Linked DNA regions of Homo sapiens. The protein of the gene in region 2 purifies or fractionates together with the protein of the main gene of each other region. This does not show direct contact. Each region holds a gene or a part of one and is shown on either strand. Other genes may lie near its edges. The genes, in order: CSNK1A1 and FAM83D.

Region 1 (7,282 bases), on a different chromosome or scaffold from region 2:
TGGGATTAAAGGTGAGCACCACCTCACCCGGCTAATTTTTGTATTTTTAGTAAAGATGGGGCTTCACCATGTCGGGCAGGCTGGTCTCTAACTCCTGACCTCAAGCGATCTGCCCGCCTCGGCCTCCCAAAGTGCTGGGATTACAGGCGTGAGCCACCGTACCTGGGCGGATTACCTCAATTCTTACTCTCTTCCAACTAAGAGTTTGAGCCACATGTAATCTATTCCCCCCCCTTTTTCAAGACCAGTTCTGGGTTGTGCCTAAGGAACCCTACCCTAGTTTAGGACTGCTACCACTTGATCAGACTCCATGACTATGTGATATTTTAATTGCTTTTTATTTGGTACTGTACAAAGTTGGAGAGTTCCAGAAGGCACTGACAGCCACTTATATCTAATATGAATTATAACTATTCTGGAAAAGTTACATTCTACTTTGAGTATGATTCAACTCTCTATCCACTCCAAACTAAAATCACCTATTTACACTACAAATAGAAAAATGCCAAATTAGTCCCAAATAAATCAGTTTCTGAAACCTTTTATTCATGTTAGCTAGATCTGCTTTACTTTAGTATTTATCAGAATGAATTTGTTAGGTAAATTTAACCAATTTCCCTCACAGAGTTTATAATCTTAAAATACCTTAAAAACTGACCTGAAAAGAATGCGGAATAGCTGCCTCAGATACATGTAATCTGGGGCTTCCTCAAAGCGTAGCCCACGACAATAGTTTAAGTACATCGCAAATTCTGCAGGAAACCCCTATAGGTTCAAGGGTTAAAACAAAGTTAAAAACAAACATTTCAAGATAGAAAAATAAATGCATTTAAGTATAAGCAAAAAGATATTTTTGGGCGGGATATTTTACCATTTCATAGGAAGATATGAGAGCTAAAATGATGGCTTGGTCTCCTCATAAATTTAAATAAAATTTCATGACCCTACCTACCCTATTATGTACAATATTAGTAGAAGAAATACATATGTTCTTCCCATATAGTGCTTTTCCTATACAGTACTATGTTCTTAAATAACTTACATAGCCCACTTGTTAAAACCTGTCATTTTATCAAAGTCGCGCCTCTTCGTGAACTTTTTTTTTTTTTAAAGACAGGGTCTCAATCTGTCTCCCAGGCTGGAGTGCAGTAGTGTAATCTCAGCTTACTGCAACCTCCACCTCCCAGGCTTCAAGCGATCCTCCAACCTCAGCTTCCTGAGTAGCTGGGACTACAGACACGAGCTACCACGCCCAGCTAATTTTTTGTATTTTTTAGTAGAGACAGGGTTTTGTCAGATTGCCAAGGATGGTCTCAAATTCCCGAGCTCAAGAGATCTGCCCCCCTTGGCCTCCTTGGTCTCCCACAGTGCTGGGATTACAGGTGTGAGCCACCATGCCCAGCCTTCAGAAGTTTCTAAATGGTTGCATGATATTCTACCTAGTATATACATCATTAACTTGTTCTTTATAATTGAACATTTGGATGTATTCTAATTTTTCTCTATTATTAATAATACTGCTAAGTACATCTGTGGGCATAGAATTTTTCCATTTAGCTCCTTAGGAAAGATTCTCAACAATGTATAAACATTTTCAAGGCTCTAGGTATCAGTCACCAAAAGGATTTCCCCAATCAGCAATGTGGAAATACAAAATATTAAAAGAGCACAAACCTCTATATCTCCTCTCCTAGAGTAAATGCCAATGTGGAGAGTGGTAAAGTTAAAGGAGGCAGTCTCTTTCTACAACCTTATGATTGTAGAGTTAAAGTTACAATCTCTTTCTACAACCTTATGAGAAATTTCTCATGTCCTGGAGTTAGGAAGGATAGAATGGAAATGCTTGCAACATTTTTTATTGATTGCACCGATATAAATTGGGTGACCACTTGAAACATATACATATGTTAAAAGATGTAAAATAATACATATTATACATCTTTCTAAAACTCAACATTTATATACATTTATGGCCCGTGTTAATGGTAAACAGTATGACAATGAGACTGAAAACAATCTCACCACTTTATAATTACTATTTTAACTCTCACTGATTTCTTCCCTCAACTATTTATTTGTATACTGCTTTGTACTTAATTTCAGGTATACAATTCTTTCTTGTCTGAAAGACCATATGGCCTTCTTTTTATGGATGAGATCATGGTTATTCATCATGACACAAATACCTCTCTATTCTAAACTCAATTGCCTTTCTATGAAGTTGAAAATTTCAGAAAAAATGAGTGTGATTCAAACTGTCTTCTGTATTCCTGTATTGTTGGACAGCTGCTATTTTGGATTGCTCCAATCTGTCTGCATGTTTCCCTGTTCCTTAATGTACTAATTGTTGATAACCTTTCTTTTCCAGCACTAGTTTAGGGTAAGGAGAATATTTCTTACTTTTTCTTATAGATTAATGAGGTTCTATTGAAAATGTTTACCTGCCCTGTTTATTTACCCCTAGTTTTCAACAGATTAGAGAGCCCTAACAAACCAGAAACATAAAACACTTATTTTACTTACTTAAAACGTTTATTTAACTTATTTTTTATTATTTTACTTATTTTTGTTGTTGTTGAGACAGGGTCTCACTCTGTCACCCAAGCTGGACTGCAGTGGTGCAATCTTGGCTCACTGCAGCCTCGACCTCCTGGGCTCAAGCATCCTGCCCCAGCATCCCCAAGAAGCTGAGATTACAGGCATGCGTCACCATGCCAGGCTAATTTTTGCATTTTTTGTAGCGATGGGGTTTCACCATGTTGCCTAGACTGGTCTGGAACTCCCGGGCTCAAGCGATCCACCCTCCTTCAGCCTACCAAGTGGCTCCTCAACTGTGAGCCACTGTGCCTAGCAAAACACTTATTTAAAAAGACCCCTATGTTAAAAGTCCTTGTTAAAGATATTTAGAATAATAAAAATGTAAATTTAAAATGGTGAATAGCTACCTAATTCAATGTTACAAGTTCCAGAGCTGGCAAATAAAATGTTCCTTTTTCTTCCTGGATCATTCATTCATTCACTCATTTGAGACAGAGTCTTACTCTGTTACCTAGGCTGGAGTGCAGTGGCACAATCTCAGATCCTTGCAAGACAGCCAAGATTCACCACTGCAATTGGAGCCTCCCGGGCTCAAGTGATCCTCCTGCCTCAGGCTCCTGAGTAGCTGGGACCACAGACGTGTATCACTGCACCCAGCTAATTTTTGTATTTTTGGTAGATAAGGTATTTCACCATGTTGCCCAGGCTGGTCTTGTGGAACTTCTGGGCTCAAGTGATCCGCCCACCTCGGCCTTCTAAAGTGCTGGGATTGCAGGCTTGAGCCACTGTGCCCAGCCGGATCATTTATCTATTAAGGTAGAAATGGGGTTTCCCTATGTTGCCCAGGCTGGTCTTGAACTCCTGGGCTCATGTGACCTACTGCCTTGGCCTCCCAAAGTGCTGGGATTACAGGTGTGAGCCATTGTGCCTGGCTTCATTTATATTTTTTTAATATTCATCATGCATACTTACCTTACATAAAACTTCAACAGGCGTGGACATCTTCTTTTCACTAATCTTTTCATATTTTTGTTTCTTTGTTGCAGCCTGTGGAAAAGAATAAAATAAAAAAGATATACTCAGTGCTACTGAGAAGAACCATGGTAGTTTAACGCACTAGACATATAAACATATACCTGTGAGATTCAAGAGAAATTTTAACCCAGAATTTAAAAAATCAAAGTATAATACATCTAAAAAAAATTTTTCCCAAACTGTTAACTTCTGATGTAAGTTTCTTCTCTAAGAATTTAATTTTAGCTATAGGGAAAGGGTGAGTCTAATAGGAATATATGGATATTAGATTTAAGTAAAAATGGCTGGGGCCAAAATTGAAAAGCATTTTCTTTCTTTCTATATATTTTTTTAAGGAGATGGGGTCTCACTATGTTGCCCAGGCTGGAGTGCAGTAGCCATTCACAGGCTCAGCAGTAATTCCCTGTGGCCTCCAACTCCTGGCCTCAAGCAATCCTCCTGATTCAGCCTATCAAGTAGCTGGGACTACAGGTGTGCATCATCATACCCAGCTGAAAAGCATTTTCTTTCCTTTTTCCTTTTCTTTGTTTTTTTGTTTGTTTGTTTGTTTTTTTGAGACAAGGTCTCCCTCGGTTGCCCAGGCTGGAGTGCAGTGGCTCGATTATAGCTCGCTGTAGCCTCGAACTCCTGGGCTCAAAGCAATCCTCCCGGCTCAGCCTCCTGAGTAATTGGGGCTACAGGCATGTGACACTACACCCTGCTATTTTTTTTTTTTAAAGTAGAGGTGAGGTCTTGCCATACTGACCAGGCTGGTCTTGAACTCCTGGGCTCAAGTGATCCGCCTGGCTGGGCCTCCCAAAGTGTTGAAGATTATAGGCATGAGCCACCATGCTCAGCCTGAAAAGCATTTTCTTAACCCATGTTCAACACAAGGGCAAAGGCATCAGATTAATACAAAAAAATTTGTTCATCAATTAGTGACATTAATAAATGGAGTTAACTGTATAAGTCACAATATTTTTCTAAACTAAAAATACTCATATTAGATAAAGCTACCCACCCAAGGACTGAGCACTACAACTAGCTCACAGCCACTCAATAAATACAGGTATTCCTTCAAAGAACTGGTAAGGTACCAAAATAGCCATTAAAATTTAGGACACACCAACAGTGGTGACTCACACCTGTAATCCCAGTTCTTTGGGATGCTGAAGCAGGAGAATCACTTGAGCCCAAGAGTTTGAGACCAGTCTGGGCAACACAGTGAGGCACTGTCTCTACAAAAAATAATTTAAAAATTAGCTGGGCATGGTGGCATGTTCCTGTAGTCCCAGCTACAGGTAGGAGGCTGAGATAGGAGGACTGCTTGAGCCCAGGAGGTTCAGGCTGCAGTGAGCCAGGCATTCCGGCTTGGGCAACAGAGCAAGACCATTCCCCATGCCCCCACCCCCACCCAAAATTAGGATACGGTGATTTATCATTAACATACACTCACAAAAGTAACAGTAAACTCCTAGCTAATAGAAACAAAATGTTAGGACATGTATTGCTGGATAAACAGGTCTTGCTGTACATAAAAACATACATTTTCAACATAATGGCAACACATCAAAATGAGAAAGTCTCCACCTTTCTTAGTCCATGCCCACTTCCATCTAGATAGAGCTAGTGGCTACCAGTGGGTACCAGCTTACTGTCTCTTAGAGGACACTGTTCTTCAGCTGAACTAAGTTCTTACTAAAATGATCTGGTTTCATTTTCCCAGATAAAAGGTAAAAAGTAAATTAAGGTTAATTCTTTATATCTCAGAAAAATCTCAGACTTAGAAGGGACCTTAAATCTTATCTTCTCCAATATATATTTTTATTCTAAAAAAGAGAGAGAAAAATCTGATAATGTGAGTCTGGTTTACCTTTAGCCCTTGCCATGGCAGGCTGGTTCTATTAAAATACATCAAAACATATCCTAATGATTCCATGTCATCTCGGCGACTAGAAAAGAGAACGTAATTTTATAAACTGGAACTATTATTATGAAAAAACATATGAAAGAAAGTCAAGTACCCAGAAGAAATGTTCCCAAATGAGGAGGGAACACTATTTGGTGTCTTACGCAAGAAGCTACTTATTTAAGGTGATTTTAAAAAGTTCATGTGTTACCTACCTCTAAACAAAACTTTTTCCATGGAATCCAAAATCTGACAAACAACTGTCTTACAATTTAATTTTAAAAGAACAGAAACGATTTGGCTAAACAACCCTCTAAATGAGCTTAATGAACCAAGCAGGATGACATTTCTATGTTTTGCAGAAACTCATTAAAAAAAAACTTCAGAAGTACTGAAAAGGAGTTACAACTTAAAACTAATTGAACATCTATATGAATGTATTCATGCATACATATCTATATACACATACATACAAATATATATTTAGATATATATATATTTAAGGATAGGTAATGCCTTGGCGTACAGAAAAAGTGACATTACAGTTTAACCTAGATCATTCAGATATTCATGGATATTTCTTAAGCCTGAAATTCTTGGTATGAGGTTCTTTAACCTGGAGGCATATCATTGTTTTTTCTACTTATTACTTCTATGCTAGTTTTAAGGAGCAAAAAGTGACTGTAAAAGATGAAAGGAACTCGAAACTCTAGAACTCATGTGAAGAAATAGGAAGAGAGCAGAGACTGTTACTTTTTTTACTTTAAACTAGATCCTATTAATTTATATATTTGAGTGAAGTATAACAGGAGATGGTCCATCAACCCACTTTTGGTTTATTAGGACACTGATAACATTTTCCTTTTAAAAATAAATAATGCATTCTTCCCAAACTCAGCGTGAATTACTAAAGTATAAAAAGCCCCAAATAGCTCTAAAAATATATGTACTATCTTCAGCTGCAAAAAGAAACGTCAACATTGCACTTATGCTTCTAACTTTCTATCACGCAGTATTTTCCCCCCAAGAGACAACCTTCAACAACAACAAAAAATCCAGAAGACCTCATTTAACGGTCTTCTCTACACTGGTTAAAGCAGCAGGTAAAATGATTAATAAGCATCCTTCAAATCCTCAGCCAAGAAACATCCTTAGACATTGTAAGAAACTAAAATATTTCAAAAACCCATTGATGGCTTCTGCTATGGCTATGATAAGCACATTCCATTTTCGAACTTACCTCTGCTCAATACCAAGATGTGCATTGATGCTAGCATATCGGGCAGTGCCAGTGAGGTTTTTATCTTCTCTGTATGGTATGTGTTGCCTTGTCCTGTTGTCTCTGTACTTTTTGGCCAAACCAAAATCAATAAGGAATAACTTTAAAAGAGAAATACAGAAACATTAGGTTTCCAACCTTGTTCAATTAAACTGCGTCTTATTCATTAAATGGTATCTATTCTATGCATTCAAATATATCAAAATAAAGTATCCTAAGTATTAATAGAACAGATAATGAACAGACTTAACACCCCCCCATAAGCTTTTACTAGTCTTCATCAATAAATCAAGTTAAAAAAAAAAAGTCTAGTAGTTTATCCTTGTCGTTTGCAGATTTCACAGGCCCATTTCATTACATACTCAGGAACCTGTCTTTATAAAGAAAGAAATGTATACATGCTTGACAGCAGAAGCAACAAGTGTGCTATCTGTCATAATGACACCTGATAGTCTGTACACCTGTTACTACTGGTAAACAAACATGAGGTTTCAAAATCTAGATATAATGGCCGAGCGCGGTAGCTCACGCCTATAATCCCA
Region 2 (7,282 bases):
TACAGGCATGAGGCCCCATGCCCAGCCTGCTCTGTGCTTTTAACAAATGTTATGTAACTGAATCCTCAAAGCAGCCCCTATCAGGTAAGTGGCACCTGTGTTTTAGACCAGGAAATAGTGACACAGAGAATCCAAGTGTCCACCACTTCAAAGTAGTGGGCCTAGGGTCTGCCTCCTTGTATGTCTGCCTCCAACCCCAGTGTCTGTAATCACTATTACATGCTGCTGCTGTTCATTTCTCATTATTGTAAAATTAGATTTTATGTCTATTTCTCTGATTCTGAAAATGACCTAAGTGTTTCAGTGGAAGCCTATACAACATAGCTAGCTTGGTCACTTTCATGGAAAGAAGAAAGAAAAATTGTCATATTTATTACAGAATTTGTTTTTTTGTTGTTGTTGTGTTTTTTTGAGATGGAATTTTGCTCTTGTTGCCCAGGCTGGAGTGCAGTGGCACGATCTCAGCTCACTGCAACTTCTGCCTCCCGGGTTCAAGCGATTCTTCTGCCTCAGCCTCCTGAGTAGCTGGGATTACAGGTGCCCACCACCACACCCGACTAATTTTTTGTATTTTTAATAGAGACAGGGTTTCACCATGTTGGTCAGGCTGGTCTCAAACTCCTGACCTCAACTGATCCACCCGCCTCGGCCTCCCAAATTGCTGGGATTACAGGCATAAGCCACCATATCCGGCCCAGAATTTGTTTTTTAAAAATTAAGCAACCCATGGCTTCTCAGCCTTTTGGCTAAGATCAAGTGTAAAAATTAAGCATCTTAACCTGTGAGCTTCAGAACTTTATTTGTTCATCACCTGTATGAGTATCTATTATGCACTGGGTACTAGATATAAAGCAGTCAGCAAAACGAATTTAGTCTTTGGTACTATAAGTTACTGCCTAAGAGACTCTAACTTACCACCTTATTATTACCAAGCAATTTGGTTTACAGAATTCAGATTCTCCCACAGAGTTCTTGTTGGTTGCCTCATGATAAAGACAGGATTGGGGTTTCTAGACCAATTGAGATGAGACAGCCATGTAACCCAACAGGTGGTTAGAAAATGAGTCCAGGTGGACCCAAGGAAGATACACTTTGGCATGGAAAAGAGCATTATCAGCTAGCCAGGTAAAGAAATGGAAGGTATCAGTGTTTAATTTCAAGGTACTCTTTCTATAATTAAGGCTATGCATTAGCAGAGAAATCACAGAATTGTTCTGGCCACAACTTTGGTCAAGTGATTTTCTCTATTTATCTACTAGACAGAAATCTATGAGCAGGCACCGGTTCAGTTGCCTACTGTTGGTTGTTGCCTTCATAGGTGTCCAGATCCTCTGCAGGGGGGTTTAAGAAGGCCTATTTCTGGCCGGGCGCGGTGGCTTACGCCTGTAATCCCAGCACTTTGGGAGGCCGAGGCGGGTGGATCACGAGGTCAGGAGATCGAGACCACCCTGGCTAACACGGTGAAACCGCGTCTCTACTAAAAATATAAAAAATTAGCCAGGCCTGGTGGCACACGCCTGTAGTCCCAGCTACTTGGGAGGCTGAGGAAGGAGAATCGCTTGAACCCGGGAGGCAGAGGTTGCAGTGAGCCGAGATCGCGCCACTGCACTCCAGCCTGGGCAACAGAGAGAGACTCTGTCTCAAAAAAAAAAAAAAAGGCCTATTTCTCTGGCCTCCCCAGTTTTTGTAGTTTTACCTCCTTCCTGGGGAAGCACTGTCTTCCCTGGTTGCTTGTGTCTCCTGTTCCTCTCTGTGCTAGTGAATTTGTGCCCCTTGCTGTATGGGGGCTGATGTCCCCATGCTCTGCCTCTGTAGCTGGTTCAGAATGTTGGGTTGTGCTGTCTGTAGGAACTTGGTCACACATTGATGTGCAGGCGCTCACAAGTGCTTTGGCCACGATCACAGAGGCATATGCAACATTCAGATGTGTGTCAAAGGGAAAGATACAGAAAACCACACCTAATCTGCCCATAATGGTATTCTTATGCTTATTATATGTTGATCCTTTAAGACTTGGCTCAGGGGTCATCACCTCCTCCAGGAAGCTCTCCTCCCACCAAGTCCAGGTGTACCTCTATGACATTCCCTAGTCGTTTTTCTTTTTTTAATTTTTATTTTGAAATAATTTAAGATTTATAAAGAAGTTACAAAAATAATATAAGAAATTCCTGAATACTCTTCACCCAAGTTCTCCACATGTTAACATCTTACAAACCTCAGTACAAATAACAAAATCAGGAAATAAACTTGATATCAATACTATCTAATTTACAGACTTATACATTTCCCGGTCGTTCCACTAATGCCCTTTTTTATGGTCCAGGATCCAATCCAGTCCAGGATCACACCTTACATTTAGTTGTCAAGTCTCCTTCATGTGATTTAATCTGGAACAGTTTCTCCATCTTTCTTTGTCTTTTAGGGTCTTGACCTGCCCCCACCCCCCCCCCACCACCCCACCCCCCGTTTTTTTTTTTAAGAGATAAGGTCTCGCTATGTTGCCTAGGCTGGTCTTGAACTCCTGGACTCAATTGATCCTCTTGCATCAACCAGCCTCCCAAGTAGCTGGAACGACAGACATTTGGCACTGCGCCCGGCTGGATCTTGACACCTTTAAAGAATACTAGCTAGCTGGGTGCAGTGGCTCACGCCTGTAATCCCAGCACTTTGGGAGGTTGAGGTGGGCAGATCACCTGAGGTCAGGAGTTTGAGACCAGCTTGGCCAATATGGCGAAACCCCGTCTCTACTAAAAATACAAAACAATTAACCAGGCATGATGGCAGGTGCCTGTAGTCTTAGCTACTCGGGAGGCTGAGGCAGGAGAATTGCTTGAACCTGGGAGATGGAGGTTGCAGTGAGCCGAGATTGTGCTACTGCACTCCAGAGTGAGACTCCACCTCAAAAAAAAAAAAAAAAAAAAAAACAATTTTTTGTAGAATTTGGGTTTGTCTGATGTTTTATCAAAGTTAAATTCAGATTACGCATTTGGTAAGAAGACCACAGAAGTAGCATTATGTCTTGCCATAGTTTTGTGTTTTATTTTTAGCTTATTTTGAATATTGATAGATTAACAGAAGTTGCAAAGATTGTACAGAAAAGTTTCATGTACCCTTCACCCAGTTTCCCCAAATGTTACATCTTATGTAACTTATGGTACAATGTCAAAACCTGGAAATTGACATTGTATACAGCTTTGTGCCATGTTATCGTCATGCATGCATATCCAGACAGAAGTTTCCATCACCACAAAGATCTCCCTCCTCCTGCTCCTTTATATAGTCACATCACTCCCCTCACTTTAACCCCTAGCAACCACTAATTTGTTCTCTATTTCTATAATTTTGTCGTTTACAGTCTATTTTGTAAATGGAATTATACAGTATGTGACCTTTCAAGATTTGCTTTTTTTCTCTCATCACAGTGCTTTTGAAATCCATCCAAGATGTGCACGTATCAACAGTTTGTTCCTTTTCATTGCTGAGTATTGTATGGTATCTTATACCATTCAGCCACTGAAGGACATTTGGATATTTCCAGTTTTTGTCTGTTATGAATAAAGTTGCTGTGAACATGTGTAGAGGTTTTGTGTGGATATAGGTTTTCATTTCTCTGGATGCTGTTATGTGTTACTGTAGTTTCTAAATCAATTAGTTTTCTCTCTCTTATTCTAGTCCTTGAAGGTAAGGAGCATGCCTTACATCTCTGTTGTCTCACGGCTTGGCACATAGTAGGGGCTCTCTATGTTTATGGAATCAATGAGTCAAACAAAAATCTTACACGTTTAATTTAAATGTGTAAGATTTCTAACGATATAGAGCCACTGGTCTGCTCCAGAGAATGCAGATTGTTGTAGTATTTTGTATGCCATTGTTTATACATTTATGTGTGTCATTTTACAGGAATAATTATGCATACATGTGCAGTATATTGCCCCAGCATACCACTACCAGTGTACGTTTTTGGTAATTATGTATTTGTAGGAGATGTGACATTGCTTGTTAAGCCACATGTGATATGAGTGTTTCTGCCTCAGCAGGCCTGTACTAGAGAAGGCCTGTCCTGTGTTCCTATTCTCCATACCCATTATGGTGTTGAGGGTGAGTGAGGATGGACTGTTACTCTAATGTGATGCCATTAAACAAACAAGTTGGAGGAAGATCAGCTTACCTTCTTTCAGACTTTGCTAAAATGTTCTTTATTACTAGCATGTTTTCTTTGATGATTTTATCCCACACATTTTGCTTCAGAATCATTTCTTGGATTCTGTTGTTTAGTATCCCAAAAAGGTTGAGTGTTCTTTTAGAACACATACACGCATGAACTAAGGGTCTCAAAAGTAAATATAAGAAAAGAACAGATGAGAAGATGGACCAAATGTAGAAGTAACATCACTTGAGGCTTGAGAACTGTCTGGCTAGTGTACCATGTATACTGTCACTAAATGGTGACCCTAAGCCACGCATATGCCAATAATTATATCTGGGAATTGTAAACTAAGGCTTTTTGTCCTAACCATTTGCTCAGCAGATGAGTATTGCTGAATTGTTCATTTATATTTCTCCCACTCCCTGCCAACAGTTAATGACAGTTCGGACTATCACAGGAAATATCTACTATGCAAGGTCAGGAACTAAGATTATTGGGAAGGTTCACGAAAAGTTCACGTTGATTGATGGCATCCGCGTGGCAACAGGCTCCTACAGGTAAGTCTCTAACCCGTCCAAGGCTTATTAATCTAAACTCTTCAGAAGAAGCATGTCATGTAAAGGTAAAAGCCTTTTCCTCTCAATGGGAGCCTGTATGGCCATGCATTCTGATATGCGTGCATCTGTGTATAGCAGCTGGTTATCAAAGCCTCCTGTTAGAGGCAGTTTGGGTGGGGGTCACTTCCCCTGTCCTGTAGTCCATAGATTAAAATGCAGAAGTTGAACTTGTATTGAGACAACACAGTCAGCAAGTCCTAGATTTCAAGCCTTGGCCCAGGTCTGCAGGGGACGAACTGGGGGTTAACAGCAACACACAGTCTGGAATCCTGGTTCCTTAGGGATCTGGACCCAGCTTGCCCTGCTCACTTGAAGGTAGGGGCAGTTGCAGGCATCTCCATTAGTGTTGAAGGCAGAGCCAGAGCTGTCAGCTTTAGACTCAAATCCTCCACGTTGCTTCAAGCCTTGTAATTTAGAGCTTTAGTCTAGAAAATACTGATTATGTTTCTGACCCACCTTTGAAGTGTCACATTGGCAATGGCATCTTAAGGTAGAGAGCAGGAAGGTTGAAGAGAGGGTGGGGATAATGAGCGGTTTACATGAATCTCTAGAATTTGTGCCATTTGTACATATGTGGCTCCAATGGTTGTATGTTCTGCCGCCTCTGCGGTAGATTGTCTGATGGTTTGCATGAGGTGTGTCTGTAGAATTTTAAAAAGAAAACCCCATTTTTGAAGAAACACACAACCCTGAGTGATAATTACGTGTCAGCCCTGGGTAAAGGTAGAAATGTGAAGGCTTGTGGAAAATGAGGCAGTAAGATCAAGAAAATCTTGACACCTTTCTTTTTCAACAGTACCCTCATTGCTCAGAACAAAATTTGAACTTTCTTCACCAAAGAGGCTGTGGGAAAAAACAAATTGAACTCTTTTTCTTGGAATTTCCTTTTGTAAGAAGTTTATTAAAAAAATTTGTTTTTAACCTAAGTAGGATTTATCTATATTAACCAAACTTAGCTACAAATGGACTTTTGCTGTTCTAAAATATAAAAACTACCCTCTCCAAATGAAATTGATGACGATGATAGCTTCCATTTGTTGAGGAGGTTTTATAATCTTGGTGTTGGATAGGTGCTTTATTTACATTATCTCATTGAAGGCTTTCTTTTTTTTTTTTTTCGTGATGGAGTCTTGCTCTGTTGCTCAGGCTGGAGTGCAGTGGCGCCATCTTAGCTCATTTCAACTTCTGCCTCTCAGATTCAAGCGATTCCTGTGCCTCAGCCTCCCGAGTAGCTGGGACTACAGGCATGCCACCATGACTGGCTAATTTTTGTATTTTTAGTAGAGATGGTGTTTCGCCACGTTGGCCAGGATGGTCTCAGACTCCTGACCTCAGGTGATCCGCTGGCCTCGGCCTACCAAAGTGCTGGGGTTACAGGTGTGAGCCACTGCGCCCGGCCCAGCCTCATTGAAGGCTTTCAAAAGAATCTTCCTTCTCAGGCTTTGAAGGCAGTTTTCAGGGGGACTTTGCATTAGCCATATCTTGGTTACAGGAGACAGAGTTGACTGTGTTCTATGATCTCTGTTTGAAACCTACTTCTGGTACAAATACCACCATTAGTGGGGTGATGGCAAGTGTCAGCTAACTCTCAAACGTACTGACTCGAAGAACCCGGAAGGAAGCATAGAAAGGTACAGTTGGTTTTCAGTTCATCTTGACGTAGGAGCCACACGCTGATCAGAACACTATATCCTGGTTCTGATGTTTTCGAGTTGACTTTTGTTCTTAGGCAGGCTCTCCCTTTGAAGTCAACGATCCTGGCTTTGTTTATTTTTTGTTTTTGAGACAAAGAGTCTTGCCCAGGCCGGAATGCAGTGGACGATCTCGGCTCACTGCCAAGTTCCGCCTCCTGCGTTTACGTCATTCTCCTGCCTCAGCCTCCCGAGTAGCTGGGACTACAGGCGCCCGCCACCACGCCCAGCTAACTTTTTTTTGTATTTTTAGTAGAGATGGGGTTTCACTATGTTAGCCGGGATGGTCTCAATCTCCTGACCTTGTGATCCGGCCACCTTGGCCTCCCAAAGTGCTGGGATGATAGGCATGAGCCACCGTGCCCAGCCAGATCCTGGCTTTCTTATATGGCCTTTAGTAGCTGTCTCCCAAAGGGTGAAACTCTTTCACTCAGAATTACTATCAATCCCTTCTGTCAGAATCCATTTGATAAAGAAAAAAGAAATCTCTGAAAACTTACTTGGCTCTGGTGGGATCACATGCCCACCCTGAATGAATCCCTGCATCCAAGGGAATAGGATACTCTGGCCAGTGTGGACCACATGCCTGCCCCTATTGTGGTTGGAGAGAGTATGATAATGAAAGCTTTCTGGGGTACAGGTGGGTGTGAGTTCTGCTAGCAGAGGAGGGAGGCGGGGAAGGGACACCGTACAGGCAAGGGCACATGGCCACTAATCAGCTCTAAAATGTTTTGAGCCATGGTGTTTTGTGAAAATGGCAGCACAGCCCCATGACTGTGGGTCCTCCACTGTTAGTGAGGAAGACTACTTCAGCAGCCACAAGGACA

The links.
Region 1: the proteins of FAM83D (region 2) and CSNK1A1 purify together in Homo sapiens (affinity purification with mass spectrometry; 9 studies listed by BioGRID and IntAct, with this or other methods). This does not show direct contact.

Annotation. Positions count from the first base shown.
Region 1 is NC_000005.10:149,506,369-149,513,650, forward strand, and holds part of CSNK1A1 (casein kinase I isoform alpha), read right to left. Parts: intron 6,842-7,282; coding exon 6,702-6,841; intron 5,505-6,701; coding exon 5,426-5,504; intron 3,586-5,425; coding exon 3,511-3,585; intron 766-3,510; coding exon 659-765; intron 1-658.
Region 2 is NC_000020.11:38,943,297-38,950,578, forward strand, and holds part of FAM83D (protein FAM83D), read left to right. Parts: intron 1-4,579; coding exon 4,580-4,704; intron 4,705-7,282.